4 separate regions of the Homo sapiens genome follow, and regions 2, 3 and 4 are each reported to be linked to region 1. The links are microRNA targets in miRTarBase. Many come from high-throughput screens and were not tested one by one. Region 1 holds a microRNA gene; each other region holds the end of a gene's coding sequence.

Region 1 (7,519 bases):
TGTTCTTACGCTATAAATTATTCTCTCTTTCAAGATGCTATTGAGATCCTGGAATTGGTTTATATATTTGATCTGAATAGGACAATCTGAATTTTTAAGGTCATTTAATATTAAGTATAAAGTGAATTTTCTTTTTACATGACTGTAATTTCTCAAAGTGAATTCTCTTCTTCTCCTCTGATATTATGCTGTGTTCACCCCATCTTTAATCATAATATGTTTGGTTGGCTTCTTAGCAATTGTCAGCATCTTTGCCACATGTTTGGAGGCCTGATATCAGTTTGTCACCATGTACTGTATTTTTCCTGTCTGGTTGGGAGCAGAGAGCAGGTGCTTGGAAATCCTGCTCTCATCCATTCTCCACACATGACTGGTCTATGTTCAGCTGAATTATGGTGAATATCACTTGAGAACTGCTGTAGTAACTGCACTTCAAGACCTGCCTGTAATCTTGCCCTGCTATTTGATATTCATTCAGCAAAGCACATAAATGAAATTATTAAAACTATTTAAGGACTCAGATATGCTCATATCATCTTCAAGACTTATCATCTTATTATAATACATGAGAAATCAGCGTAATTCTGAAGAAGTTAAGCTTGACCCAGAGTTTGGAACACAATTGAAATACCTAATTGATGGTTTGTTATTAAACTATCAATTAAATGTATTTTTACATTTAATTTTCAATGTTGTTGATCTGCTGGTTTACAATTGGGAAACTCACTCAAAAGAGAAATGAAATTCAAAACTATAATGATCTATCATCTTACACTAGTTAAAGTGGCTTTTTTCAAAGAGATAGGTAATAATGGATGCTGGCCGGGATATGGAGAAAGGGGAATCCTTGTACACTGTTGGTGGGAATGTAAATTAATATAGCCACTATGGAGAATAGTATGGAGGTTCCTTACAAATCGCAAAATAATACTATCATATAATCCAGCAATCCCACTGCTGGGTATATATCCATAATAAAGAAAATTAGTCTATTGAAGAGATATCTGCACTGCCATGTTTATTGCAGCACTGTTCACAATAGCCAACATACGGAATCACCCTAAGTATCTACCAACAGATGAATGGATAAAGAAAGTACGGTACATATACACAATGAGATATTATTCAACCGTAAAAAATAATGAAATCTTGCCATTTGCAACTTAGATTGAAATTGAACACAAAGGTTTATGTAAACAGATACTCATGTAAACAAACTTTCAAAAGACAATTTTTGTTAATGCAAATATTTACATTAAACCAATCAATAATAAAAGTTTGCCTTGCTTTAGCAAATGTTTTAAATAAAAATTAAGATGTAAAAATATGAATAAGAGAAGCCCTAATCACTGGAAAATAATTATGTGTAAAAATTTTTAAAGATACATGTGAACACTTAAATGACTTAGTTGAAATAGATTTACAACTGTCTTGTATTACATACCTATTTTATACCGCAAGCGTACCTATATGTAGATTCTGGAAACCTCATGCCGAGGTAGAGATTTTAAGATTAATAGCAAAGCTCCAGATATAGGTAGATTTTCATATATTTCAAAGGCATGTATGCTCTGATACAAAATACGTTATTAGAGGAAAGCTTGCTTAAACTGTATAAGAGAGAAGCTTTTCTTGTTTCTAAGCACAGGTTTGAATTTTCTTCTGTTCATTTATTTCCCAGCAGGTGTCTCTATACAGCAGCGATATTCAGAAAGCACAAGAAGACAAGAACTAATTATATAAAAAAGAAAATGTAGCAAGGAGAGAAATGAACTGGTCATAGAGTATATCTATGTTGACAATATGAAGTCAAACTAAAAATATATACTCTCCATAAATAGTTGTATAGCATATTTTATTTTCTTCTTGATTTTATTTGTTTAAACAACTTTTTGAAAAGAGTCCTAGGAAAAGCTTTTAAAACAGTTTGTACTATATACAACCTATATAGGTTGGTTTTTTATATATATATATATATATATGTGCAGATATATATATATATATATATTTATATGTGCAGATTGGACCAAATACAAACCTCTAACAGTATCAGTTTACTCATTGCCATCTTGATCTGATAACTTCAGCATTTCAGATGAAACTTAAAGGAAGTAGAACTGATCTGTGCTATAATCATCAACAATGATTTAAAGGTGATAGTAGACAGTAAGATATTAAAAAGCAGAAAGATAGTGTAAAATAATATCACTCAAAGATGTAAATTATCCAGCTTTCCTTGATCAATGCATTACAAAAGTCACTATTTTCATTTAGAATGAGATGCAAAAGAGTGAATATTTTTAATGCTTAATTGTCAATACATAAGCTTTTTAATCAAACAAAATTTATGCTTTGATGGATCCCAGTTGAATTTCTACCCTAAAATAGATTAAATAAAACATTTCAACTTTACAGATTAAAGGAATTGAACTCATGCCTTTTTTATTGTAATTGCAGATTTAATGCATCACAACATTCTGAGATGAAAACACGAAATCAATACATGCTTAAAACTTAATAGCGTTAACTGAATTGCTTCTAAGTTAAACTTAAGTTTTAACATGTAGAGTTCTTATTTCCCAAACAATAAACATTCACCCAGTTTAAAAACACATGAAAACTATAAATTTGTAAATATAAATATAAAATGATATATAAATATATAAATATATTTATATATATATATAAATATAAATATATTTATATATAAATATAAATATAAATATAAATGATAAAATATAAATATAAGAATATATTCCACAAAATGGTTAAAGACAGAAAAAAATTCTAGCTGGATGGATCTCAAAGACAGTTTGCTCAACTTTTACATCTATTGGATTTTTTAGGACGTTAATAGAAATTTATAAAATCTTAGAACTAAGTATGTCACAAAAATGTATGTGTATTTTGGCCAATTATAGAGAGGCTATGGAATAATTGTACTCAATGAGGTCCCAATTTTCCTTTCACTCTGATGTTATATTTCTTTTATCTTATGTTTATTTTAAAAAATTAATACGTTAATCTGAAGGGCCACTAAATAAATCTTCCAGGCTTCCACGATACTTTCAGAAATGGATTGAACTGGCTGGGCGCAGTGGCTCACGCCTGTAATCCAAGCACTTTCGGAGGCTGAGGCGGGCGGAACACCTGAGGTCGGGAGTTCGAGATCAGCCTGACCAACATGGAGAAACCCTGACTCTACTAAAAAATAAAAATAAAAATAAATACAAAATTACCCAGGCATGGTGGCACATGCCTGTAATCCCAGCTACTTGGGAGGCTGAGGCAGGAGAATTGCTTGAACCTGGGAAGCGGAGGTTGCAATGAGTTGAGATCATACCATTGCACTCCAGCCTGGGCAACAATAGCAAAACTCCCATAAAAAAAAAAAAAAAATAGAACTTTTTAAATTCATTCTATTTAGATTAACAATCTGATTTCAAATTATCAGATAATATTTTCTGGTTTAAGATGAACAGAAAATACACTTGTCAATGTTTTCTCACAGTCTTTTTTTTAAGTAACAAAAACAAAATTATAAGAACAAATTAATGATAAAAAAAAAGAAAGAAAGGAGGTAGTGAGAGGCCACAAAAATGGAGAATTCCCAGTAAAGGAGAATGAGTACATCTTTAAAGAGAAATCAGAGTTGATAGGGTATATCCCAAGAATAAACATGGTTTTGTCCAAGGAGCCAAGAAGAAGCTCCAGGTTCTAAATCCACAAATTAAAAGAAAAGGAATGTGTCATGGGGCAACAAAAATGGGCTACTGAAATGTAAATCCATGAGAGCAGGGGTTTCATTGGTCTTGTTTGCTGCTGGAACTGACATAGAATTTTGCCTGGCAATAAAGAGTTCAGTACAGCATACAGAAATTTACTACCAGTAGAGTAAGGAGATCTGTCATTGTTTTATAGTTATTTTTTCCTCTTTATGGCTAACCAAGATATGGAGTTAGAATAAGCTCAGCTTTGTTGCACTCTCAGGCTTTATTTTCTGCTGTGGGAAGCTTCCAAAGGCATAAGACCAGTGGTGTGCTGGAGCTGCCTTCTACGGTCTATTAAAAGCCAGCTATTAAATTTTTAGGAATTTTGCAAGACAGGTTTTAAATGCACATATCAGTTTTTAAAAAATCTACAAAATAAATCTATACTTCCATATCTTCCATATATTATAATAAAAACATGCAATATATACTCAATATTCATTACTTTCTAATTATTCCACCATATTTTAATGCTATTGATGATCTTGTGGTTATTTACATCTGCGTGGGTGATGGAAAAGCTATCCAGTTGTCCCTCATTATCCCTGGAGATAATTGGTTCCAGGATCACTCCCACTAAAACAGAATCCATGAATGCTCAAGTCCCTGATTTAAAATGGCATATTACTTACATGTAACTTATCAATATCCTCCCGTATACTTTAAATCCTCTCTAGAATACTTACAATACTTAATACAATGTACATGCTATGTAAATAATTGTTATGCTTTATTATCTTTTTACTTGTATTATTTTTATTGTATGTATATTGAGTTTATTAGAATATTTTTGATCAGCAGAGGGCTTTTTTATTGTTGTTCTTTCTGGATATGCATGTGTACATACATGTTTTTCCACCTGCTCTACCATATGGAAATAGTTTGCTGACATTCTTCTAGATAGCCTCCAAAACCCAACCAATAAATTTAGCCCATATTATACACAGCAGAAAACAATAGAATTTATTTGTGCTTGCGGCACCCATATACATGGAAGAACTCAATGATGAGTGACTCAAAAGAAGTAATTAGAATTTGGAGCTTATAGATAATACAATTTTAATAGGTGAAAGGGAGAGAGAGAAAGGCACCTAGGGAAAACAGATGACTTTTTGGAAAGATAAATGGGCTTTCAGAAGAAAAAACAGGAGATAAAGTTTGTGATAATGTTTGTCTATATAGTTATGAATGTTTTTTCCTGTTTCCTTCAGGGCCATAATACTCCCCTGGAGAAGGGGTTTGAGGTAGGTTTTATTTACATTTTCCCTTCTGGGATTAGATCTACCCTGAAGTGCAATTTATAGCAGCCTTATTTCCCATAAGTTTCTACTTTTACTCAGATAAAGAAAGCTCTAGGAAGGCTTTTTTTTTTTTTTCTGCATCTGTTGAAAAGTTTTAAATAGTTTACTTAGATACATTTATTAGATTTGAATGAAAAGGTTGGTGTACTTTACTTTTCAAAGTATATACCAATTTTACAATTCTTTCTTCTTTACAGTAAACCTCATTTTTGACAAGTGGTTGGCTGTCTTAGCTTAACTTGAGATATGAAAATATAGGTAGAACATTTTTCTAGCAATCATCTACAAAGATGAAAATTTCCCTCTCAGATAGGCACTTGAACTTTTTCTTAATAATATAAGTACTTTATTGGAGAGTATGTGAACCCTCTTTTCTCAATAGATGGTCTTGTTAAATATATTTTTTAAATATGACAACAAAAGAACACAAGAAACTTTGATAAATTTTATTTTATAAAAACAAGAGTATTTGTTCTGCAAACACAATGTTAAGAAAAGAAAGAAACTGCAGACTGGATTAATATGTGCAAAACAGGTAACTAATACAGACTTGTATTTACAATGTAAAAAGAATCTGAAATACTTAATATGAATATATATATTTTTGAGACAGAGTCTCACGTTGTAACCCAGGCTGGAATACAGTGGCACCATTTTGGCTCACTGCAGCCTCAACTTCCTGGCTCAGGTGATCCTCCTACCTCAGCCTCTCAAGTGTCTGGGACTATAGGCGTGTGCCACCATGCCCAGCTAATTTTTTGTATTTTCTGTAGAGATGGGGTTTTGCTGTGTTCCTCAGGCTGGTCTAGAATTCCTAGGCTCAATTGATTTGCCCACCTCGGTCTCCTAAAGTGCTGGGATTATAGGTGTGCACCCACCCTTAATAAGACTAATTTTAAGAAAACAAACAACCAAATAGAAAATGAGGAAAGGATTTGACAGGTATTTCACCAAACATATATGGATGATAAATATGCATAATAAGAGTCTCAAAATCAGTAGTCATTAGGGAAATACTAATTGAAACCATGAGATACCATAGGTTGTTTGCAAGAATAAACGTGATATACCATTTGTGAAAATAAATTAGAAATTTCTTATAAAGTTAAACATAAGCCCATGACTCAGTAATCCTACTCACAGTATTTAACCAAGGTAAATGAAGACTTAGGTTCATACAAAAACTTGTATGGAAAGGTTTATAATGGTCTTATTTATTATTGTCAAAAACTGGGAAAACCTAAACATCCTTCATTGGTTAATGGATAAATAGTGACATATACATCCAATGAAATACTAGTCAGCAATAGAAAAACCTGATTAATAATATACACACAACATGGATGAATCTCAAATGCATGTGCTAAGTAACAAGAGGCAGAGAGAAAAAATTTTATATGGTATGTTTCTATCTAATGACATTCTGGAAAAGTAAAATATAGGAACGGAAAGCACATTAGTGTTTGCTATGGGCTGGGCGGGCAGGAGGTGTTGACTATAAAGTGCAGCAACAGGGGTTATTTGGGGGGTGATGAACTATTTTGCAGTTTGATTGTGGTCATGGTTTTATATGACTGTAAGCATTTATCAAATTTGACAGGGTGGTACATCAAAAAGTAAAATTTATGTGAATTTGAAAAGTGAATAATAATAACAGTGACAACATTAATCATAAAATCCTAGATGAGTAACAATGCCAAAAAAGTGATATAAAGACGAGAAGAACTTACAGCATTAGCACAAAACATTTTTTAAAAATTTAGGTCTCAGCTTCATTGTTATCTCCTCAGAAAAGTTTTTCCCTGACCATTGAGTATGAAGTATCTACTCGTCATTCTCAATCACAGCATCTTAATTTAATTATCTCCCTTGCACTTAATTCTAATCCAATGTTTTCTCATTTATTTAAGTTTTTATTATTTTTTGTTGTTTGTATTCCTGTGTTAAAATGTAATCTTGTTTTCTGTAATGCTCACAACTGTGAGCTGAGGACGTCGAATAATTCCTGGCATGAAGGATTACTTGATGCACATTGGTTAAATGGGGATAATGTCATTAGTCTTTGAACTGCAATGTAGGAGTTCCAAGTTTTTAAATAAGATTAACATGTCATATAATAAAAAACATTGATCAAAATTGAAATACCAAACAAAAGTCTCTTAAAAGCCACAAGTATTCAATAAATATCAATTTCTTACTAATATGAGTTGGGAAGTAAAACAATAAGGGCTAAAACTGACTAAAATATTTAGGTAGTATCTTTGGAAAAATAGGTAAAAACATATAAAGTATAAAAATGTTTTGAACTAAAAGAAAACTGTTTAATATAAAATCATATATAAGAAGAAAGAAAGAAAAGGCTGTGATTTTTTGCATAATTTGGATAAGAAACTCATCATATAGTTTTCACATTCTTAGAAGAAAAGTGAATAGCTTCAAGATGGCACC
Region 2 (7,519 bases), not on the chromosome of region 1:
AGAAAGCAATCTTAAGTCTCATAAATCTAATCCAGGATCCTTCTATCATAAACTTAACTGTCTTGATTTTTACTGAGATTAGCCAAAATCAGAGCCAAAAAATTCCCCCTTGCACTAATTTGTTACCCTTACATTGACATTAAAGGTTTGGCATTTAATTCTCCATCTTGATCTTGAACTAAATTTCCTGAGAACTGTAATTGTTACAAGCCTTGCCACTCAGGCATGTCATGAAGACTCACTTCTGCCAAAATAGTTATAGCTATTAAATTCCTCTGTGATAACTTTTTTGTTTTCCTAACTCTAAATTAAGATTTGGCACACAGTAAGACAACACAATCTAACAAAAAAGAATCTGGATGTTAGATTTAAATAGATTTGAATTTAAATTCAGGCTGTGCTGGTTACCAACTAGGTAACTTTAGGCAAATTATGCAATCTGTGTGATCCTCAGTTTCCTCTTCTGTAAAGTGAGGATGTTACCTACTTCATGGCATTATGTGAAGATTTAAAGGGATGACTTTAAAAGCGCCTATAAATTGTCTGGCACATAAAATATTCAATAAGTGGTATTATTCTTAAAAAATATTATGATCCTATTGCCTTTGTCTGTCTTATACTCTGAGTGATACTAGTTGAACTACCTAATGGCTGAGGGCCTGCTTAGTGCCAGACATGTGCTAGACATTTTATATCACTACCTCAATGACTGTAAATCCCTTTTTTTCACATTTCCAGTTAAATTGGTTCTGTTACTTAAATGTTCTTCTCCTTTTTTCTTTCCACAGGAAAACGGGCCTTACTATACATCATATCCCCCATCACCAGATTTGTGACCTGCCATCTTTCAGTGCTTCTTGGTTCCCAGGATGCCACTTCCTCCACGAATAGCTACCTGTTGAAGTGATATTCATTGTTGCTGTACAGATCCAGAGAGCCTTTTGTCCCCACCTCTCTGGTATTTTTTTATTGACTGTATATTTTCTGGCACATAAGCAATCTAAAAATGGTAGGCCATTCTGAACTGCACACATTTTAAATTTGTATATTTATATGAAATGGAAATGTTCATTTTTAGATTGTTAATAGAAATTGGGGAGCAACTTTTGAGTATCTTTAGTTTCCTGAAGGACACCGAATTCTCCATTAGATAAACCACCAAGACTGTTCACATCATCTCTCTAACATTGCACGCTTCCTTTGTGTACTTAAGTGATTCTCGAAATATACAGAACCAATGTATGCTAACCAGATGCATTGTTTGCTTCAGATCCATGGTGTTAATACCATGTATATTTTATAAAGATAATTTGGCTGTGTTAAAAGAGAATTACCTGAGTCCAAGAATGTGGAAATGTATCTGACAAAAAACATCAAAATCATTAGCAAAACATAGGACTTAGAATGTTAATGTACAAGTTAAGACTAAAGTTTAAGGACTAAGGTTCCTTGGATTATATGACTTGTTAAGATTGCCACAGTTCCGATCTCAACAGTGTGGGGTGAAACAAGAAGACTGTATCTTCAGCCTTTTTCCTATAATCATGGATGATTTGGTCTTATTCAAAAGGACCGCACATATTAGTACTCTTAAGAGCATCTTCCAAGACTCCAGCAGTGAGCATTTAGAGAGTGTGTTGTCTTCCAGAGTCATGAATGATTTTGTTTAGCTATCAGGTCTACTACCTCTAAGGACATTTCATAGCAGCATCTCTTGAGTTGCCTGCATCAGTGTGGAGGAAGTGTGTCACAGTGAACAAATCCAGGGAGCTGATAATTGGCAAAAGACCACTTTTACCACTCAGGCTCTATTTGTGCCTTAGCTTGGTTATGAGTAAAAATTAGAATTATGCTGCCTACCTCACAGAGGTATCATGAAGATAGCATTTAGAAAGGGCTTTGTTGTGGTGGGGTATCTTCAGTTAGTTTTTAAATGGGAATAAATATATATGAGGGAATGCTACACAGCACTCCTCTTGTCCTTGATACCATTTGAGTGATTTTTCTTTTTGTGTGGCAATACCTGTTAGTGTAAAATTCCAACCCTGATGACCTCCTTCCTCTTTTGTCCAGAATCTCTTCTGGCCTGCTCATCCCCTGATGCTATACTTCAATAAGAGGCATCTGTTGGCCATTTTAAACATTTCTTCTTGAATTAAGGTCAAACCATTATTATTCCCATCTGGGTAGCTTTGTACTTTTTTTGATTCCTACAGCCACCTCCCCACAGCCCCATCTTCCTCACCCCATCACGTACATTGGCAGTTCAGAGAAAAAAAAAAGCAGAACCTTTCTGTTCTATCATGTGCTCCAGATCAGTGCTTCCAAGGGTCCCATTCTTTTCTGCCCAAACTAATTCTTCATTGGAGATCAAAGAAACATATTCTCTTCATTTATGATAGGGAAATGCCCCTATAGTGCATTAAATTCATCCTGTATTTTCCCATATAAACAAGAAGAGACTTTACATTTTTTAGATAAAGGTTCTTATCTTTTGCATGTATTGAACACATTTTCTTTGTGTCAGACCTCAAAATTACTTGATCCTTATATATACATCTATGTTAAGATTTTCTCTTATGTCCCCTAGGTCATCACATCCAGGCAGCCAGTCAGATGTCGGATGTTAAGCTTTCTCTCAAACAGTACTTTTTTTTTAACCCCTTGGGCACTGTACCTTAAAAGTCTGCAACTTTAACTTCATCTTCTACAGTCAATCGTGAGATCATATTTGAGGTATCTTCTTCACAAGGAGCAGCTATGAAAGTCTGCCAACTTTTCTTTGTTAAAGGGGAACTTGGCTACCTCAAGAACCTGGCCCAAACCATTTTCTGTAGAGATAATAGAGGCCGTAAGCTACTTTGCCAATTTGAAAGGAAGCAAATTTATATATACAATTTCTTACAGGCAATGATTTTGAAAGGATGTTCCTTTGCTATATTCATACCAGTATATTAATGTTTAGTAACACAAGCAGGATTCTACATATGCTGAGATTTTAGTACAATTGATGTCCTAGGGTATAAAGGTGATACAGAACTATATACATATCAACTGTGTTTTATAATTCAATGATGACTAAAGAAAGATAAGGACCACTCTTCTCACTGAAACTAAATTTGATGTGGGACCAAGTTCATGCTTTTATAGATGTCTAAAGTGTTATAGAATGAAGTTGCTTCAAAGTACCAAATCCTAGAGGAGAAATATAATGACCTTGATATTGAAATGATTAAGCAACATTTGGTATACCAATCTGCCTTTGTGAAAAGGTTTAGCCTGAATAATACATGCCATTTTCAAGGACATATTAGAGGATAAAGGGGATACTGGATGGAGATGACCACCAGCATCTGATGTTAATTCAAAGCACCACCAAGTCTTTAATTTAATTAAACTTTGGTCATGCCAAATGCTAATTGAATTGTTGAAGACACAAGTTATAAAATATTAATTTATTAATCATGCAAGGCATAATATGATTTTTAAAACAAGTACACTTCTTGCTTCCACGTGTATTTGGGTTCTTAATTCATCTATATCCAAGTTTCTTGATAGTGAAAATTACCTCTTAAAAAAGGTTCAGCCTTTATTAGACTCGTGAGGGCAAATGGTACATATTTTAAAGACGTTTTCTCCTTTAATGTATATTATGTTTCATTGGCGGATGCTTTATATTTCCTTTTTCTTTTTCTTTTTTTTTTGGAGACAGTCTTACTCTGTCACCCAAGCTGGAGTGCAATGGTGTGATCTCGGCTCACTGCAGCCTCGGCCTCCCAGGTTTAAGTGGTTCTCCTGCCTCAGCCTCCCTAGTAGCTGGGACTACAGGTGCCTGCCACCATGCCTGGCTAATTTTTTTTTTTTTTTTTTTTTTTTTCAGTAGAGACAGGGTTTCACCATGTTGGCCAGACTGGTCTCAAACTCCTGACCTCAAGTGATCTTCCTGCCTCGGCCTCCCAAAGTGTTGGGCTTACCAGTATGAGCCACCGTGCCCATCCTGTATTTCCTTTTTCAAAGGAATACATCTGCAGTATTTTGAGAGTAATTAGCAGAGGGTTTTTTGAGTATTTTTGGTAGGAAAAATAGATGTAGTTTTTTAATCAAATTTCTGAAATTGAAAATATCACTTCTTTTTAAAGAGGGATAAGTATAGTCACTCTAGTAGAAAAACATGGCTTGCCTATTTCCTCTTCTTTTCTGTTTGCTTGGATATTGTTTAATGAATTCAAACTGTAGGTTTAGTCTTGTCTTTATAACAGTTAATGGAGAAGTGATAAAATTAAGTATTCAGCATAAACTAAAGATCACTCTTTGTATTTCCCCGATACATTGACAGTATGTATGTATATAGAGTTTAAATTGCTTAATATATGCACAGAAATGATTAGAATTTGAAGTACTATATAGAGGAGAGTTACATGGTTCTAGTGGCAGTGGATTGATTGTATTAAGGACCAAAAGAACTGCAGGATAATATAAAAACACCTTGAAAACTGGAGTTAGTTAGGTTTCTTTTTCTTTTTCTTTTTTTTTTTTAAAGGGCCTTACTGTACTTTTTTTTTTTTTTTGGTCACCCAGGCTGGAGTGCAATGGCACGATCTCGGCTCACTGTAATCTCTGTCTCCTGGGTTCAAGAGATTCTCCTGTCTCAGCCTCCCCAGTAAGTGAGATTATAGACATGCACCACCATGCCCGGCTAATTTTTGTATTTTTAGTAGAGACGGGGTTTCACCATGTTGGCCAGGCTGCTCTCGAATTCCTGACCTCAGGTGATCTGCCCACCTTGGCTTCTCAAAGTGCCAGATTACAGGCATAAGCCACTGTGCCTGGCCAGGTTTCTGATTATAGTTTTCTTAAGTTGTAATCATCATAATTAACGTGCGCTAGAGTGTTTTAACTGTGCTGGCACTAATGCTTCTTGGCATATAATTAACTCTTGTTTTGCAAAAAGACCATGAAGAATGAAAGGAGGGCTTTACCTTACCTTAGTCATTTTGGGTGAATACCGTAAACTGGGTGGCGTAACAAAACACATTTATTTCTCACAGTTGGAGGCTGAGAAACCCCAAGATCAAAGTGCCATCCAGCGCAATTCCTGATGAGGGCCCTCTTCTGGCTTCTTGCTGTATTCTCACTTGGCAGAGAGAGAGAGACATCGTTACTTTCCTGTCTCTTCTTATAAGGGCACTAATCTCATTCATGAGGGCTCCACCCTCATGACATGATTACCACCCAGAGGCCCCACCTCCAAATGCCATCACTTTGTATGTTAGGGCTTCAACATATGAATTTGCAGACGAGGAGGAGAACATAAGCATTCAGTTCATAACATACCTATAATCTAGGTCATATCATAAACCCAGAGATGATAAGGATTGCCTGGTAGGCCTAACCATATATACATATACATGCATGCACACACACATATATGCATAATCTGCCTTGTTTTACATTCTTTGAGTCGGACTTCTGTGGTCCATATGTAGAGAACATAGAGCAATAAATAACCTAGTTCAATCTTTGAGTCTTACTGAACTAGTCCTTAAACAGATGGTATCAAGATCATTTTAGATATTAGTGACTCTCTTGTATATTAGTTATTTTTTACACTTTTAAGAACAGCATCTTTGAATCTTTTCAAGTACAGTATGCCTTAAATGTATAGGACCACTGAGTTCAGGAAGAAAAGCATAGGTATTCTGTAGGTGAATTACACTAACAAAATCACAACTGCAGAATGTGATCTGATACTTTTGTTGGACAGTAAAGCTAATACATTTTATATACACAGTCATACCTTTTTTTTTTGTAATGTGTTTCGTTAACGTAAGCACACAGTCATCACAGACTGAGACAGGACTTTGTTAGACCAGATCTTGTGAGCTAAATATTTAAGAGCTTAACATATATAAATGATTTTAATTGGTATTGGGCGAAGGAAACCTAAAAATGCTTAAATTGACAGATCTTACAATTTGCTTACTGAAAATTCAGAAAGCTTTTATGAAAACTTTGTATTTTAAAATATTTTTTGCTCATTCTGAATTAGAAGTTAGATCCCTTTTAAAGAGGGTCTCACTCTATACAAATATAGCCTATGAAGAATCAATAGTGAAATAATAGTGTTTATATTGAACCCCAGGATGGGACATTATTTTTTGACCATTTACATGAGGTCTTTCTCTAATTACCAAAGTTAACCTTAAGAGTAGTTAAAAACTCAGTGAATTTTAGTCAACATTCTCTGTGGAGACCTGGACTAGTGTTTCCCAAACTTTCATGTGCATGTATCAAATCAGCTGAGGATATTATTAAATGGAGATTCAGATTCAATAGTTCTGGGGTGGCCTCTGGGATTATCAGTTTCTAACAAGCTCTTAGGTGTTATCAATTCTCCTGGTCCCCAGACCATAGTTAGAGTAAAAGAGTATAGACTGCATTTAGCTTCCAGATTTTCTCTTTCAAGGAAAGGAGACAGAACTGTCATTGTAATTCTTCCTGTGGTCCAGGCACTCTAACGTTCATCGTCTCTTCTAATGCTCTTACAAATCCTGTGAGGTTGGTGATAATAGAAGTTACCTCCTGAAGACGACATTCACAAGCAGGACCGACCGTGTAGACCAGTTTTCTCAAACTGAATAATGTACTTCACTTTTTAATAAGGAAAAAAATCTCTTAGCTCCTCAGTTTTTGCTTAATTTATATTTATTATAATGTTATCTAAATATATATAAACATAAAACTAGGTATAAATGCTTTATGTTTATATGTCTTGCACAAGTATAAAACCAAAACAAGTTTATGGGTTAACACAAGCAAAACTATAAAACTAATAAAATTTAAAATAGTATTAAATAGTGATGTTTTGACAAAATGAAATTGTCACTTGTAATGTGATTATGGTACTGAGTGCTACAGTACAGGCTCTTTTCAGTTCAACAGGCATGTACTGCCATGTACTATGTGATGACCCAATTCACCCTGTTTTCTCCTATTCAGACTATTACTTTAATTTGTTCAGCACATAGTGATGTTATTTGGTCCTCATCTAGCCTGAATCCATCATTCCCCTATTAAAACAGCCTCTGTTCTCCATAAGCCTTCCACCACTAATGTAGAACTGGGCCTTAACAGGGAAGTCAATACAAATACAAACCTAAGCACTGAGATGGTTCTGCCAATATTTGGTTTTAATACAATTATCCAAATAATTCAGAGCATGAATATTATTTTAAAATGTTTCATCAACATGAATAATGCATAATTCTCATAGTAAGTTCATGGGCACTTTCCTACACCCAACACATATATACTCCACAAGGATTTTGCATGGACCCCAGTTTAAGAAGCAACAATTTAGTGGTCAGTAGCATTGGCGCTTTGGCTTCTGACACACTCAGACCTTGGGCCTGTTTCTCAACTTTTTCTGAACCTCAGTGTTTTTGTGTATTCAACAGGGATAATATTAATTGAATAATTAGGAGGAACAAATGCAATAATGTACATAAAGCATGCATAG
Region 3 (7,519 bases), not on the chromosome of region 1:
TTCCAAGGCTCATGCTCTATCCAGATGTTCAATGTCTTGTGGATTTGCAATTTGGAGTGCCTCTATCACAGCCCAGAGGCACTCGTGATTTGCATTACAGGACCTCACACTTTCAGGTTATGGAAAATGTATGGAGATGTCAATGACATATTAGAATTCTGTATAAAAGGAGGAACTTAAGGGTTCTTTTGTTTGTTTGTTTTTGGTAGGAGGAGGTTGCAATCTGCAGATGTGCCTGGGTGGTGGGTGGGGGCGGGGAGGGCGGTGTTTTACGTTTCTTTTCTCTCCCAGCAGTGTCTGACCTCTCTACGCTCAGATGTATCATATCCACTCACTCAAATGTGGAGCCACTCTCAGATGACAGAATCACCAAAAAACACCAGGAGAAGGTATTAAGATGCAGATTTCTGGGTTGGCTTTAGACAGAGAGAGAGAATAAAAATGTTATCTCTTGGGGTGGGGACAATTGTCATTTTAATAAGCTGGGTCCCAGAAATATGCATTTTAAATAGGCCAGGGCCAAGGACTCTGAATTTGCTGGATTTTTATTTATTTTTTTAGAGTGTTGCTCTGTTACCCAGGCTGGAGTGCAGTGGTGCAATCATAGCTCACTGCAGCCTCCACCTCCCCGACTCAAGTGATCCTCCCACCTCAGACTCCCCAGTAGCTGAGACTACAGATGCATGCTACCATGCCTGGCTAAGTTTTTTATTTTCTGTAGAGATGGGGTCTCGGTGTGTTGCCTGGGCTGGTCTTAAATTCCTGGTCCCAGGTGATCATCCCGCCTTGGCTTCCCAAAGTGCTGGGATTACAGGCATGAACCACTGTGCCTGGCCCAGCAACATAATTTAAGAATATGAATTAAAATTCAGTAGATTCATCTTCCTGTGGGAAAGGTACATTGTGCACCCCCCGCCCTCCAACCAATTAGGTCTATCCTTATTTATTTAGAGACAGTCTTGCTCTGTTGCCCAGGCTGGAGTGCAGTGGCACAATCTTGGCTTACTGCAACCTACGCCTCCCGGGTTCAAGCGATTTTCCTGACTCAGCCTCCTGAGTAGCTGGGATTACAGGTGCCCACCATGCCCAGCTAATTTTTACGTTTTTAGTAGAGACAGGGTTTCACCATGTTGGCCAGGCTGGTTTCAAACTTCTGACTTCAGTTGTTCTTTTCGCCTCGGCCTCCCAAAGTGCTGGGATTGCAGGCATGAGCCACTGTGCCCGGCCTATTCAAGTCTATTCTAGATGCCTTATGAGCAGACACTTGTGCTCAGCATCAGGAGCCTGACCTTCTAGCAGGAAGCCCTAGGCTTTATTCCCAGCTCTGGCCCATGTGAGCCATGCAGCCCCTGTGAGCTATTTAACTTCTGTGCTTGTCCATAGATGGGGGCAGCGCCACATATAACCTTCCAGACAGGATCCCAAGGGCGCCACATGCAACGGCTATGAAAGCATGCTACCTTCTGAAAAGCACTGCCATGTACTGCGTGGGTCTCCATTGTCGTTAGAAGTCATCTGCAGTGCCAGGCCTTCCCAGGCTCCTGAGAGAACACACATGACAGCGATCAGGAAACTGAAAAAGCTGTTCATGCTAGGCGGCTGGGTGCAGGAAGAAAGGGCAACTACATTCTGTTAATACATTCGGGTGCTGTCATTTCAGAAATGGGAAGTGGGACTTATATGTTACTTTATATTCTTTCTTTTTTTTTTTTGAGATGGAGTTTCACTCTTGTTGCCCAGGCTGGAGTACAGTGGTGCGATCTCAGCTCACTGCAACCTCCGCCTCCCAAGTTCCAGCAATTCTCCTGCCTCTGCCTTCTGAGTAGCTGGGATTAGCAGTGCACGCCACCACGCCCGGCTAATTTTTTTGTATTTTAGTAGAGATGGGCTTTCATCCTGTTGGCCAGGCTGGTCTCAAACTCCTGATCTCAAGTGATCCACCTGCCTCGAACTCCCAAAGTGCTGGGATTACAGGCGTGCCCAGCCCTTCATATTCTTTGAACCATGAGCTCATGAATGTACCATGAGCATGTATTACTTTTATGATTCCCTGGTTAAACACAAATGAGATTTTTACTGTCAGCCTCAGACCCTTGTGTTCAACTAATATGTGACCACATAGTGACTGGGCAGGCCAGCCCTCACTGCTGGGCAGAGCTGACTCCAGTGCTTGATGCAAGGGGATGCCAACACAAAAGAGGACAGGGATGGCATATGGGTCTCCTCAGGAGCATGGGGTCCTCGTTCCACCCCGTTGTTTCTAGAGGGGCTAGCCCATCCCTCTCTGGGCTTCAGTGTCCTGATCAGTAAAATGAGGGGATGAGGATGCAGACAAGAGCTGCAAGATCTTTTTCAGTGAATTTCCTGACACTTAGGGCTTCTGGGTGAAGCCACTGAGGGGCTAGGGACATCGGTTTGGGGTTGTTCTCTGGGATTCTTGCAACCTTCAGAAATGCCCCAGGAGCTGACTGGTGTGGCGCCGGCCAGTCTTCTAGCCTGGCTATAGAGGAAGCAATCAACGGGCCAGGGGCAATTAAGGGCCAGAGTAAATCTACTCTCCCCCAGAATCAGCCCTGTTGGGAACGGCTGTGTGCTATTCCAAGTTCATGCCAATTAACTAACACTCTCTCATTTAGAGGGCAATTCCTTCTAAAACACACTGTGACTTCCAAGGAGCTGGATAATGCAATTCTGCCTGCTCCAATTACCGTGATCCGAGATCACCCAGGCCCAAACTCCATGAGGGCGCCTCAGCCCAGCAGCCTGTCATTCCCTCTTCCCTCAGCCTCACTGGAGGTTGTCGTCTTCCTGGGGAGCTGGAAAGCTGCAGGCAAGGGGCTGTGCAGTCATGACACCACTATTCACCCTGGCCTGGGGCCAGCTCAGATAATACCTCTCATCACCCCCGGGGCCCCTCGCTTCCTTCTTCCTCTGGGATGGGTATGTGAGGCATCTGGGAAGTCACCACCTACCACCCCAAAGGGTGGTGAGGTAATCCCCAGACACGGTCTAACAAGTGCCTGGGGTGAAAGAGGCTCTGTGTGGAGGAGAGTGCCTCCCTGTGTTGCTCTGAACCCCCAGGAGCACTTCACTGATATCCTGGCACCCAGAAGAGATGAGAAGTTAACGCGGTTTTCTTGTCATCACAAAAGCATCTTTCATGCCATAATCGAGTCTGGATTGGAGGGAAGATTTCACTAGACAGTGGCCAGAGGCTAGACACTCTGTTGGTTATTGCCCACCCCTCCACCCACTCAGCCATTTGAGGATTCCTATTGTAAGCAAGAAAGTGAAGGAGACAGGCACACTGCCTAAGAGGGGGATGCTGACATGCTAAGCACAGGGAAGCAGGACGACGTTCAGTTTTGACCAGAGTTAGCCCTGCAAGAGCAGGCTCTGTCACCTGGGCTGAGGGGGTGTGTTCTGTGATGCTGATGACTAGGGACTCAAAGGAGAGGGGCAGCATCCTCCAGAAGGTGGCTCCAGGCTGGTCACCAGCAGAAGGAAAAAGGGGAAAGTTGTCTTAACTGCGCCCACCTGAGTTTCAGGCACTTGACAACTGTCTCATCAGGTAGCTGTGGAGCACCCTCCCCTCCACTTCTCCACCTCCTGTAGCCCCTGCCTCCTCAGAGACTTGGCCATGCTTCCCCACAGCATACTCTGGAGGATACGGATGTGGGGAAAGCGTGCTTCCTGCCATTTAACTTCTCAGAAGGCAGCAATGGTAATGACAAATCCCAGAACTTAATGTTTTTACCTCTAACCAAAGTCAAAATGGCAGGTGCCCACAGTTCCAGTCTGTGCAATGACAGCAAACCCCGGGGAGTGACTGGGGAGGGCACAGAATCTGGAATAGCCTTTTGCTCTTGCATTAACTTTGAAATTTTTATTACAAAAATGTCTTTCCAAAAAAAATTTTTTTTTTGAGATAGAGTCTTGCTGTTACCCAGGCTGGAGTACAGTGGCACTATCTCAGCTCACTGCAACCTCTGCCTCCCAGGTTCAAGCAATTCTCCTGCCTCAGCCTCCCAAGCAGCTGGGATTACAGAAGCGCGCCACCACACCCAGCTAATTTTTTATATTTGGTAGAGATGGGGTTTCACCATGTTGGCCAGGCTGGTCTCAAACTCCTGACCTCAAGTGATCTGCCTGCCTTGGCCTCCCAAAGTGTTGGGATTACAGGCGTGAGCCACCACGCCTGGCCAAAAACATTGTTTTTTTTAATAGTAGAAGAGAGTATACAAGTGATTTAAAAAAACACAACAAAATCATTCTGCCCAGGTAATCACTGTATTAGTTGTGTGTCCTTCAAGATCATATAGGACACCACCTAATAGGGGGATGCTGATAAGTGCTTTTCTCTGCCCTCAAATTGCTTTCCCCTCAGAAATGTTGCATGTGGTAGAGTTGTATCATATACAGTGCTTAACTTTTGCAAATTCATCTGTGCCTAACCAAAAAAAAAAGAAAAGAGAAAAAGAAAAAAGCAGGCAATAGTGCCAGTGTCATTCCACTCAACAGGCATCTGCCCAGAATAAGCACAGTGGGAAAAGTGGTGTAAGGTTCCAGTTCCCTCATGCGATTCCAGCGTTTAAAGAAACATTTTTCTGGCCGGGCGCAGTGGCTCACGCCTGTAATCCCAGCACTTTGGGAGGCCGAGGCGGGCGGATCATGAGGTCAGGAGATCAAGACCATCCTGGTTAACACCGTGAAACTCCGTCTCTACTAAAAATAGAAAAAAATTAGCTGGGCGTGGTGGCGGGCGCCTGTAATCCCAGCTACTCAGGAGGCTGAGGCAGGAGAATGGTGTGAACCCAGAAGGAGGAGCTTGCAGTGAGCTGCGATGTTGCCACTGCACTCCAGCCTGGGCGACAGAGTGAGACTCCGTTTCAAAAAAAGAAACATTTTTCTTTAAGTCCCTACATTCAAGGCCAGTAGTACTTCAGCGGGAACTCAAATAGAGAAATGGTGATCTGCTCCAATGCTTTAGGTGCAATTTAGACTATGTCATTCTGTCTTAAGCTCAACCTAGGACCCAACCCCTAGCAAGATGATTCCACTGGTCACATACTATTTTTTTTTTCCCATTTAGTCTTCAAAGTTGTTCTGAACCAGTTTATACAGTTGACCCTTGAACAACTCAGAGGTTAGAGGCACCGACCCCCTTATGCAAAAATCTATGTATAACTTTTGACTCTCCCAAAGCTTAACTACTATAGCCTTCTGTTGACTAGAACCCTTACTGATAATATAAACAGCCATTCAACACATATTTTGTATGAATTACATACTGTATTTTGTATTCTCACAATAGGGTAGGCTACAGAAAACGTTATTAAGAAAATCATAAAGAAGAGAAAATATATTTACTATTCATTAAGTGGATCATCATAAAGGTCTTCATCATTGTTGTCTTCACATTGATGAGGAGGGGAAGAGGAGGAGGTGGAGGGAGAGGAGGAGGGACTGGTTTGTTGTCTCAGGGGTGGCAGAGGTGGAAGAAAATCCTCATATAAATGGACCCGCACAGTTCAAACCTGTGTTGTTCAAGGGTCAGCTGCATAATATGTCTTGTTCTTTAGATACTTAATACAAGACATTTCACAGCATGAAATGTATAAGATGTTCAATGGAAATAGTTCTCTTTTCATATCACAAAGGAAACAAACATCACCATGAAAAAAGACAAACTAGGAACAAATTTACAAACCAGGAATATATCACTTTATTCATTTCCAGATTATGAGTATGACACAGCATATACATATATTTAGATAATATATAAAACATAGAATAAACCGCAGGAAGAAATATTGGTCTGGAATTCCTTATGGGCCATCTTTAATTCTGTAAGTTCATGGTAAAGGTATCTCCCCCCACACTGGGGCAGGCGGCGGAATAAGCTCCAGCGTTCATGCGCCACTCACAGGACTGCTTACCCCCACTGCACTTACAATGCAGTCACAGAGTTACGGCATGTTCACCGGTGTCCATGACAAGCAACACCAAGTATAAATAACAGAACTACAGCAGAGCAAACTAAGATAAATATGTTTTTGCATCGTCCTCCACATAGTTTCCTTTTAAAAAGAAGAGTCACATCCAGGGGTCTATCCCTCGAGTCACAATTCCAGTTATTGCTGAAGGGAAAAAACAGAGAAGTGGCATCAGTTTAAGTTACTAGAAAATAGATGGTCAGTGTCACAGGCCCCCTGCCTCTGGTGACACTTGAGTGGACAGTGACTGTGGAGAATGGACACACATCTGCAGCACACAGGCAGGGAAGCACCCACCCTTGTGTTAGCAGGGACCTATCAGCTGATAATACTTTTGGGCTGATTAAGAGTTAAGATGGGGCTGGGCACGGTGGCTCACGCCTGTAATCCCAGCAGTTTGGGAGGCCGAGGCAGGCGGATCACTTGAGGTCAGGAGTTTGAGACCAGCCTGGCCAGCATGGTGAAACCCCGTCTCTATAAAAATTAAAAATTAGTTGGGCATGGTGGCAGGCGCCTGTAATCCCAGCTACTCAGGAGCCTGAGGCACAAGAATCCCTTGAACCTGGAAGGCAGAGGTTGCAGTGAGCTGAGATCGTGCCACTGCACTCTAGCCTGGGCAACAGGGCAAGACTCCATCTCAAAAAAAAAAAAAAGTTAAGATATTTTCTGAAGTTCTGTGAGCCAGTAGTAGGAAGTGCCTCATCCCCTCTCACCGTGGAGAGGGGAAACAGCAGTAACAGAGTATTTCACAGGAGCATTCCTGATTCAGTGCTGGAAGGAGACCTAAGATCTTGCGATATAAAGGCACCCCAAAGTGTCAACACAGAGAGGCTCTGCAGCTGAATTCTTAGACCAGAGCACCTTCCAGGAACACAGCTCCCCCCACTCACTGGTGGACCTTCCTCTGGGGAAGACTGGCTTACCTTTGCCTTGTTCTGAACTGGGAGATACAGTTTGAACTCTGCCGGCAGCTCATCTTCTGAGTAGAGTCTGTCTGAGAAGTAAACCCGTCGGATGCGACAATTTGCATGGATCTGTCAAGGCAATGCTTCTTTTGAGAGGCGAAATGTGACTGTTCTCCCCCTTTTCCTGAATCTTCTAGAGGCCCTCTTCCAGGACTGGAAACGCGTCATCTCCGGCATCTCCTTGGCTTGTCTTAGGGATGGATTCTGGCAAGAGGGAGGTCTTACTTGCTGTATTCACCTCTATACCTGACCCGACTTCTGAATATTTCCTGGACCTTTGTGAGGCCAAAGCTCCCTGGACAGTGTGGCAACTGAAGCCAGAAACCCACACTGTTCTGCTATGTGGGCCACAAGCCAATATTAGACGCAGTGTGCCCTATCCCCAACCCAGGGCTCTATCTGGGAAAGGAGCAGTACCTGCACTCTGAGGGTCTCGATGTAATTGGTGCCGTATGCTCGCCGTGTGAAGTCTAGCAAGTTGAACTGAATCTGGTTCCAGCCGTCATCCAGCCGCATGGGCATGGTGCAGATGAAGGGTTTGACCCGGGTGGTGCTCTG
Region 4 (7,519 bases), not on the chromosome of region 1:
CTCCCCCACCCCCGGCCACCACCAACAGCACAAACCCCAGCCCTCAAGGCAGCCACTCGGCTATCGGCTTGTCAGGCCTGAACCCCAGCACGGGGTAAGTGGGTGCACGTGGGAAGCTGTGGGGAGAAGCAGGGTCGCTGCTGCTTCTAGGGTGGGGAGCGGCACCCCAGTTATGTTGGCAGGTCCCTGCCCCTGCTAATGCCTCTGCTTTGCCTCTTGCAGAAGCACAATGGTGGGGTTGAGCTCCGGGCTGAGTCCAGCCCTCATGAGCAACAACCCTTTGGCCACTATCCAAGGTGCGTGCTGCCTCATGTCACACCCATCGTCACCAGCCCTATCCTCTGGGGCCTCGAGCCCTGCCATTGCTGCTCCAGCCATGCCATCCTGCCCCTGCTCACTGCATTGCTTGCCTCTTCATACCCATCTCACCTTTGGGGAAGGTGTGAGGGGTGCTGATGGGGGTCAGTGGGACCGATGGGGAGATGGGGGGCACTCTGGGCAGGATGCTGGAAGGCAAAGGTCTCCCCTGGCCCGGCATGCCCTTAGCCCAGCCTCTCTCTCTCCCCGCCAGCCCTGGCCTCTGGTGGAACCCTGCCCCTTACCAGCCTTGATGGCAGCGGGAATCTGGTGCTGGGGGCAGCCGGTGCAGCCCCGGGGAGCCCTGGCCTGGTGACCTCGCCGCTCTTCTTGAATCATGCTGGGCTGCCCCTGCTCAGCACCCCGCCTGGTGTGGGCCTGGTCTCAGCAGCGGCTGCGGCTGTGGCAGCCTCCATCTCCAGCAAGTCTCCTGGCCTCTCCTCCTCATCCTCTTCATCCTCATCCTCCTCCTCCTCCACTTGCAGCGAGACGGCAGCACAGACCCCTGGAGGTCCAGGGGGGCCCGAGGCAGGGTCCAAACCTGAGTGAGGGCCAGCCATGCCTCCCCTCCCATTCCTCTGGTCCCTGCCTTGGTCCCTTGCCTGGGAAGAGGGCGAGGAGGCCAGTGGTGGGGACGCAGAGGGTCCTCAGAGCAGGAGTGACAAGGGAGGAAAGACCAAAAAAACAACCAACCAAAAAAAAAAAAAAAAAGGAAAGAAACTAACCAACAAAAGAGAAAACCAAAAATAATCACAACAGAAACCAGCTGCCCCAAAGGAACCAGAGGTGAAAAACAAACAAAAAAAAACCAAAAACAAACCAAAAAAAAAAAAAACCCACAAAATCAAACAAACCAAAAAACCAGTCGCGAGCCAGACCTCAGCGTGCTCACCCTCACTGCTACGACGCCAAATAAAAACCCCAGCCAGGGGCGGAGAAGCCTCCAGCAGGTCAGACCTCATGCCACCGAGCCCTGGCTGTGGGACCAACCCCCAACCCTGCCTCCCCCGTGGGGGCTACAGAAGGAAAAAGAGAAGATGCCAGCTTCCTAATCCCAGCCCCCAGCCCTGGGCCAGCGAAGACAGGGCACAGCCTGGGCAGATGGGCTGGGGCTTAGCACCACCCACCAAATGTTCTTTTCCAGAAGGTGAAAGAGAAAGGGCCTGAACAACCTTACACCAAATATTCAGTAGCTTCATCCAAAGGATGTACAGAATTTTTAGCATTGTGCTCAACAGAATGTGTCCCTACCATGTGTCCCCTTCTCCCCTGGCCCCCAGCTCTCCCCACCTGGGCAGGGGGTCTTGCTTTAACCTCCTCCCTCCCCCCAGCAGGGGAGAGTTCAAGGGAAGGCCTGCGGACAACTTTTCATCCCCTGTTCCTCCCTCTTTTCCCCTTTGAAGGGTGGGCTAGGCCATTTTGCCAAGTTCTAGCTCTCACAAGTCCCTCCTCAACCCTGTCACCCTCCTCTGCTCTGGAACTGACTCCCTCCCCAGCCTATGGGAAGGTGGAAATTTCAGGCAAGAGGGGATGAAGACATTCAGTTGAGGGCATTCAGTTGTCTTTTTCCATCCTGTCTGTTTCCCTGAAAAAAAAAAAAATTCATATTCCAGTGCCTATCCGTGGGATCCTTCACGTTCTTTGACATTAACCAGAAACCAAAAAGAGAACTCACCTCGCTTTTCCCACCCTGTGCCCCTCTGGTACTGGCGAATGCCTCTCCCTCCCCCCACATGCACGCACGCACACACCCCAGTGGTGGGGTTCCTCGAGATGGCATCCCCATCAGGGTCCATGTGGTGGGGACAGTGCCACAGCCTGTGGTCCCCATCTGAGAGGGCGCGGTGGTGGCCACCACTCCCACAAGACCTCCACAACTCTTGGCTGGACCCTGTGTTTGACCAGCCCCGGACACGTCTCCACTGACGACGGACAGAGGAGAGACACCACTGGGAGCCACCCTGCCCTCCTGCTATTGTGGAGGCCAACAAAGTTTTGAACCGAAAACCAAAAAAACAGAAACAAACAAACAATAAATTTAAACTAGAAAAAAAATTTATATATATATATAAACATATATATATATATATATATAAAAGGGAAAGAAGATGAGGACTCTTCAAGAATAAGATGGAACCGCGAGGCGGAGCCAAGCCCCTGCACCGGTGGTCCAGGCCCTTGTTCCCCAAGGCGGATGGAAGGACGGATGCTTCTTTCTCTTCACAAATACCTCATGGACGTTGTCTTTGGGAAAGCCGGAGGGGGCGGCTGGGGCAGGGCCTGTCCCTCGGCCAGGGCAGATGGAAGCGGGTGGGCGGGGCTGAGAGAGGGTATCAGGGACAGGGGTGAAGAGCCCCAAACTCCCCTCCCAAATCAACTGAAAAAGCTTTAAAAAAAGACAGGAAAAAAAGGAGTAAGAAAGCAAAAAGAACAGATGAAGGAAAACTTAACAACTTTTGGGTGGTTTGATTCCTCCTTTGATTTCTTTTTCGGTTCTCTTTTGTCTGACCTCTCTCCTCCCCTCCTTCCTCTCTCCTCCCCTCCTTCCTCTCTCCTCTCCTCCTTCCTGTCTCCTCTCTCTCCCTTTGCTCTCCTCTCTTCTCTCTCAATCTTGTTCTTTCTGTGTCTCTCCTCAAACCAAAGTGTTGCAGTGAAGGACACGAGCCATTGAAATCAGGGTGGGGCCTGACAGCCGTAGTGTGGCCCCTGCCCCTTGTTGGGCAGGAGCAGAGAGAGAGGAGAGCCCTGAGACCGCAGGGCTTTGGCCTGGGCAGCTTCCACTTTCTGCCGGACACTCTGAGGAGAGGCAGATGGAGCTCCAGGCCTCAGCGTTCTCTTTTTTCCTTGTCTCCCTTCTCCCACCCGGGAAATGAAACTGTTGGGCTGGGCGACGGAGGCAGCAGAGACTCGGCCATTGCAGGGGCCTCTGGGTGCCTTGTCCGGGCAGTGGTGAAGTAGCCGCCCCTCCCACCCCGGCACGATGGGGCCTGGCACCTCGTCTACCCAACCTCACCGGAATGTAAGCATCTCCGCTGAACGACTCCCTGCCCTTACCCTACCTCTGAGTTTGTCCATGTTTATTTCCTGAAGAGAGAAGGGACTGGCAAGAGGGCTTGGGCCCCAGCCCAAGGGTGGAGAGGGGGCCAAGGGCTCCTGACCAAATAGGAAGGACATTTGAGCAGAGCAAAATGAAAGGAATTACAACCAAAAACCCCCTCCGAGAAGACAGGCAGCATGGAAGGCATGGTGGAGATGACTCAAACAAAAACTATGATTCTAGACCAAAAAGGAAAAAAAAAAAAAAAAAAGGAAAGAAAATCCAGGACTCACCACCACCCACTTCATCCTGCTTCCTCCCCATCAAGTCCCACCACCTGGGACCTCTCCCCACCCCAGTATGTGGGAGTGGGGTAAAGAGGAGAGGAGGAGCAGGGGGCAGGGATGGGGCAGATGCCCTGATGTTGGTGGAGGGACCCCTGTGCAGCCGGGGGTGCTGGGGACCCTCCCCATCCAACCCTCACACCTAGGAAAAGAAAAACAAGAAAAAAAAATTCCTGGGAGGGGGAAAAATAACCAAATCCCAAGCTTTAACTACAGCTGTGAAACCAAATATTGGGAAGGGGGTAGGAGGGAGGGAGGGGCAGGTGAGCCCCAGGTCTCCCCCTGGGCCCCCCTCCCCTGAGGACTCGAGATAAGGCACCAAATACCTCATAGAACTTTAATGTTAAAAAAAGGAAACCAAATATCGTTGGCTGGGGGCCAGCCAGGGCAAGGGGCTGGGGGGCTGGAGGGAGCCAGGGTTGGGAAGGTGATGGGGGAATTCATGCCCCCCACCCCCATCTGCCCCTTACACTCTGGTCCCCCGTCTCGACTCCGGGAAACAAAACTATCTCATCGTTTTTATTTTGTGGTCTGTACAGAGCCTGTGTCCGTGTGTCTGTGTATGAGCGAGAGAGTTGGAGGGCTGGGGAGCTTTATGTGGGGGATGGGGAGGGCAACCCCAGGCTAGGCTATGGGCTAGGTTAGATGTCCGAGGTTGGGGGCCAAGGGCCTGGGCTAGAAAGAGAGGAGAGATGAGTGGGTTGGAGCAGTGGGGAGCCCTCTGAATTTCTCTTCTCCCCAACCCTGACCTCCTACTTAAGGGAGGGACAGAGACTGGGTCTACCCTAATGGTGGGCCTTTTCATTGTGCCAAAAAAAAAAAAAAAAAAATTGATGCCAGTAACTAAACCACCTCTCTCTGTTCTCTTCTGGGGGGTGGGGTGGGTGTGTGTGTGGGGGTGGGTAGGGATGGGGAACCCAAGCCCCAGTAGGAGTTGGGGCTGAGATCAGGAGGAGGGGAAGGATATGAGTTTTCCATCCATCTCCCTGGAGAAGGCCATGACGGGCTCTCCAAGCCCTGGGGAGATCTGGCGAGGGACTAGCCAAGTCAGGGTGACCTCTTGACCTGACTAGTTTTTCTAACCCACATGAACACCAGGGTGCCTCTCTCTTCCTCTAGCCCAGGGTAGGGGGACCTGAGTGAGAGAGAGAGTGAGACAGACAGCAAGATTGAGACACGCGGGCCCCCACTGGTCTCTGAGTGGGAAAGGCAAGTGCGAGAGATAAAGGCCTCCAAGAGAAAAAAGAAACAAACCAAAGATTTAACCATTTAAAAAAAAAAAAAAACCCACAGACAACTCCGCTACCTTTTTATATGTTGGAAAAAAAGTGAAAAAAAATTAAAAATAAAAATAAAAAAAAATACACAAAAACTCCAAGCCGCAAGTCCTTCATGCGGTTTAAACTTTGACCTCAGCAGTCTCCAAAGCAAGACGACGATGACAAAGGCGGAAACAAAGAAAAAATAATGTATATTTTTAAGTATTTGTCCTTGAATTGTTAGCTCCTTGTTAAACAAACAAAAGGAGAGAAAAATCCAGAGAGAAGTGTTGCTGGGATGGAGACAACTATTTACTATGTCTGTGACCCCTCCCTTCTGCCTCCCTCCCCTTCCTCTCTTTCCTGTCCTCTATCCTTGCTGCCCCTCCCCCAATATGTCCCCCAAACCCAGGGGCTCAGTATTTATTTATTTATATAATTGCAGGGTGACTGGGGGCCTCTCTCGGCAACTCGTAGAGAGCCTTTGGATAATGGCAGGGTGGGGAATGGGCGAGGAGTCTTTGGGAAGAGCAGGGGCCTGAACTTTCAACTCCTTTCTGGCCTCTTGTCCCACTGCTTCCACCATCACCTTCCAAATCCAGGGCTGCACTAGGGCAAGGTGACCACCCTACTTGGTAAAGACCTGATTGGCGCAGCCCATTCTGGTGTGGGTGTCTTTCACCACCCAGAATGACCAGGTTGGAATGGGGGTGGGTGAAGTTGGAGGGGGTGGCAAGTACAAGGCAAGGGTGCCCAGGAACCGGCATCCAGAAATCAGCCCTGGAGTAGACCTGCCTTTCCTCCATCCTTACCAAGTTAGCCTCCCTTTCAGTTCCGTCTGACCCCTGTGTTGGTAGCCCCTTCCTTCCCTTCCTGTACCCCCTCCGTCTCTTCTCGTGGTAGCGGGTTAGTGTTTCAGTGTTCTTAACTCCAATCTGCTTGTTCATTGTACAATGTGCTTCTTTTAAGGCCCCATTTTTGTAACTTGAGTGTGTCATTCATCTGAACAACAAACATCAAAAAATAAAAAATTAAAAACTGTACAGAGAGAAATGATGCCTACTCTCCCTTGGTCTCCTCTCTGTCCTGGGAAGAGTGGTGAAGAAATCAGGGTGTGGGGTTGGAGATCTGTATGCTGGGGAGGGGAGGGTTTTACTTCTGTTCCAATAGTGAATGTTCACAGTCTGGGCAACATAGAACTCTTCTCTAAAAAAGCCCCAAAAACTCAACTCGGCATGGTGGCATGTGCCTGTTGTCTAGTCCTAGCTACTTGGGAGACTGAGGTGGAAGGATTGCTTGAGCCCGGGATGTCAAGGCCGCAGTGAACCGTAATCGTGCCACTGCACTCCAGTCTGGGTAACAGAGAGAGACCTTGTCTAAAAAACAAAAAAAACAAAAACAAAAAAAATTAAATTTTAAAAAATAGTGAATGTTTGGAAGTAAAACCTGCACAAATGTTCTTGCCAAAGAACCAAGTCTTTGAATTTAGGATGAATTCATACTTCTGAATTCAAATCTCAGTTCTGCCATTTTATAAATATATGACCTTCAATATGTGAGCTTCTGTGTCCTCATCTGTAAATAAGGGACAATACCTACCTCACAAGGTTGTAGGATGATGGTCTAAGTAAAGTGCTTAGGACTGAGCTCCAGCACACTGTCTTCAATATATGAGAACTATGAGAAAGCCAGGAAACCAGCAAATACCTCTCCATTTCCATCCCTGGATGCTTCCCCAGAGGACTAAAGAGACTCTTTAAAACCAGAGTTTCAATTAACACATTAAAAAGTTTCAACCTCACAAATAGTCAAATAAATTAACAGAAGAGTTATATGTCATTTTTTCACATCACCAAAAAAATGCAAAAAAAAAAAAAAAAAACACCCAAAAACAAACAAAAATGCCGGGAGCGGTGGCTCATGCCTGTAATCCCAACACTTTGGGAGGCCGAGGCGGGCGGATCACCTGAGGTCAGGAGTTCAAGATCAACCTGGCCAACATGACGAAACCCCGTCTCTACTAAAAATACAAAAATTAGCCGGACGTGGTGGCGCACGCCTGTAACCCAGCTACTCGGGAGGCTGAGGCTGGAGAATAGCTTGAATCCGGGAGGTGGAAGCTGTAGTGAGCTGAGGTCGTGTCACTGCACTCCAGACCAGGCGACAGAGCGAGACTCCATCTCAAAAAAAAAAAAAAAAAAGTCCGGGTGCAGTGGCTCAGGCCTGTAATCCCAGCACTTTGGGAGGCCGAGGCGGGTGGATTACGAGGTCAGGAGATCAAGACCATCCTGGCTAACACGGTGAAACCCCGTCTCTACCAAAAATACAAAAAATTAGCTGGGCATGGTGGCAGGCGCCTGTGGTCCCAGCTACTCAGGAGGCTGAGGCAGGAGAATGGCATGAACCCAGAGTCAGAGCTTGCAGTGAGCTGAGAATGTGCCACTGCACTCCAGCCTGGGCGACAGAGCGAGACTCCGTCTCAAAAACAAACAAACAAAAAAAACAGGCTATGTGTGGTGGCT

Evidence for each region. The annotated mature microRNA hsa-miR-4307 reads AAUGUUUUUUCCUGUUUCC and lies in region 1 at 4,958-4,976, shown strand. An mRNA with a match to its seed (bases 2 to 7 or 8) in the 3' UTR can be bound and repressed. Matches are read on the target gene's strand: a 7mer-m8 pairs with bases 2 to 8, a 7mer-A1 pairs with bases 2 to 7 and ends in A, and an 8mer does both.
Region 2: the mRNA of GDAP2 is a reported target of hsa-miR-4307. Seed matches in the 3' UTR shown: 7mer-m8 at 1,368-1,374, 8mer at 1,388-1,395, 7mer-A1 at 2,377-2,383, 7mer-m8 at 4,167-4,173 and 7mer-A1 at 6,733-6,739.
Region 3: the mRNA of CFAP20 is a reported target of hsa-miR-4307. Seed matches in the 3' UTR shown: 8mer at 6,050-6,057.
Region 4: the mRNA of POU2F2 is a reported target of hsa-miR-4307. Seed matches in the 3' UTR shown: 7mer-A1 at 2,428-2,434.

What each region holds. Positions count from the first base shown.
Region 1 is chr14:26,903,740-26,911,258 of GRCh38, forward strand. MIR4307 (microRNA 4307) reads left to right here and starts at 4,903; the gene lies at 4,903-4,986. All of the region lies in intron 3 of MIR4307HG (MIR4307 host gene), which reads left to right.
Region 2 is chr1:117,863,886-117,871,404 of GRCh38, reverse strand. It overlaps GDAP2 (ganglioside induced differentiation associated protein 2), which reads left to right. Exons shown (of 14, transcript NM_017686.4): 14 at 789-7,519. The coding sequence ends at 836. Among named protein-coding and RNA genes, the nearest start is that of GDAP2, 62 kb to the left of the region's middle.
Region 3 is chr16:58,107,891-58,115,409 of GRCh38, forward strand. It overlaps CFAP20 (cilia and flagella associated protein 20), which reads right to left. Exons shown (of 6, transcript NM_013242.3): 4 at 7,379-7,519; 5 at 6,920-7,030; 6 at 5,702-6,140. The coding sequence ends at 6,135. Among named protein-coding and RNA genes, the nearest start is that of CFAP20, 18 kb to the right of the region's middle. RefSeq lists an enhancer at 1,548-1,597.
Region 4 is chr19:42,084,644-42,092,162 of GRCh38, reverse strand. It overlaps POU2F2 (POU class 2 homeobox 2), which reads left to right. Exons shown (of 15, transcript NM_001394376.1): 13 at 1-94; 14 at 223-296; 15 at 572-6,053. The coding sequence ends at 906. Among named protein-coding and RNA genes, the nearest start is that of ZNF574, 12 kb to the right of the region's middle.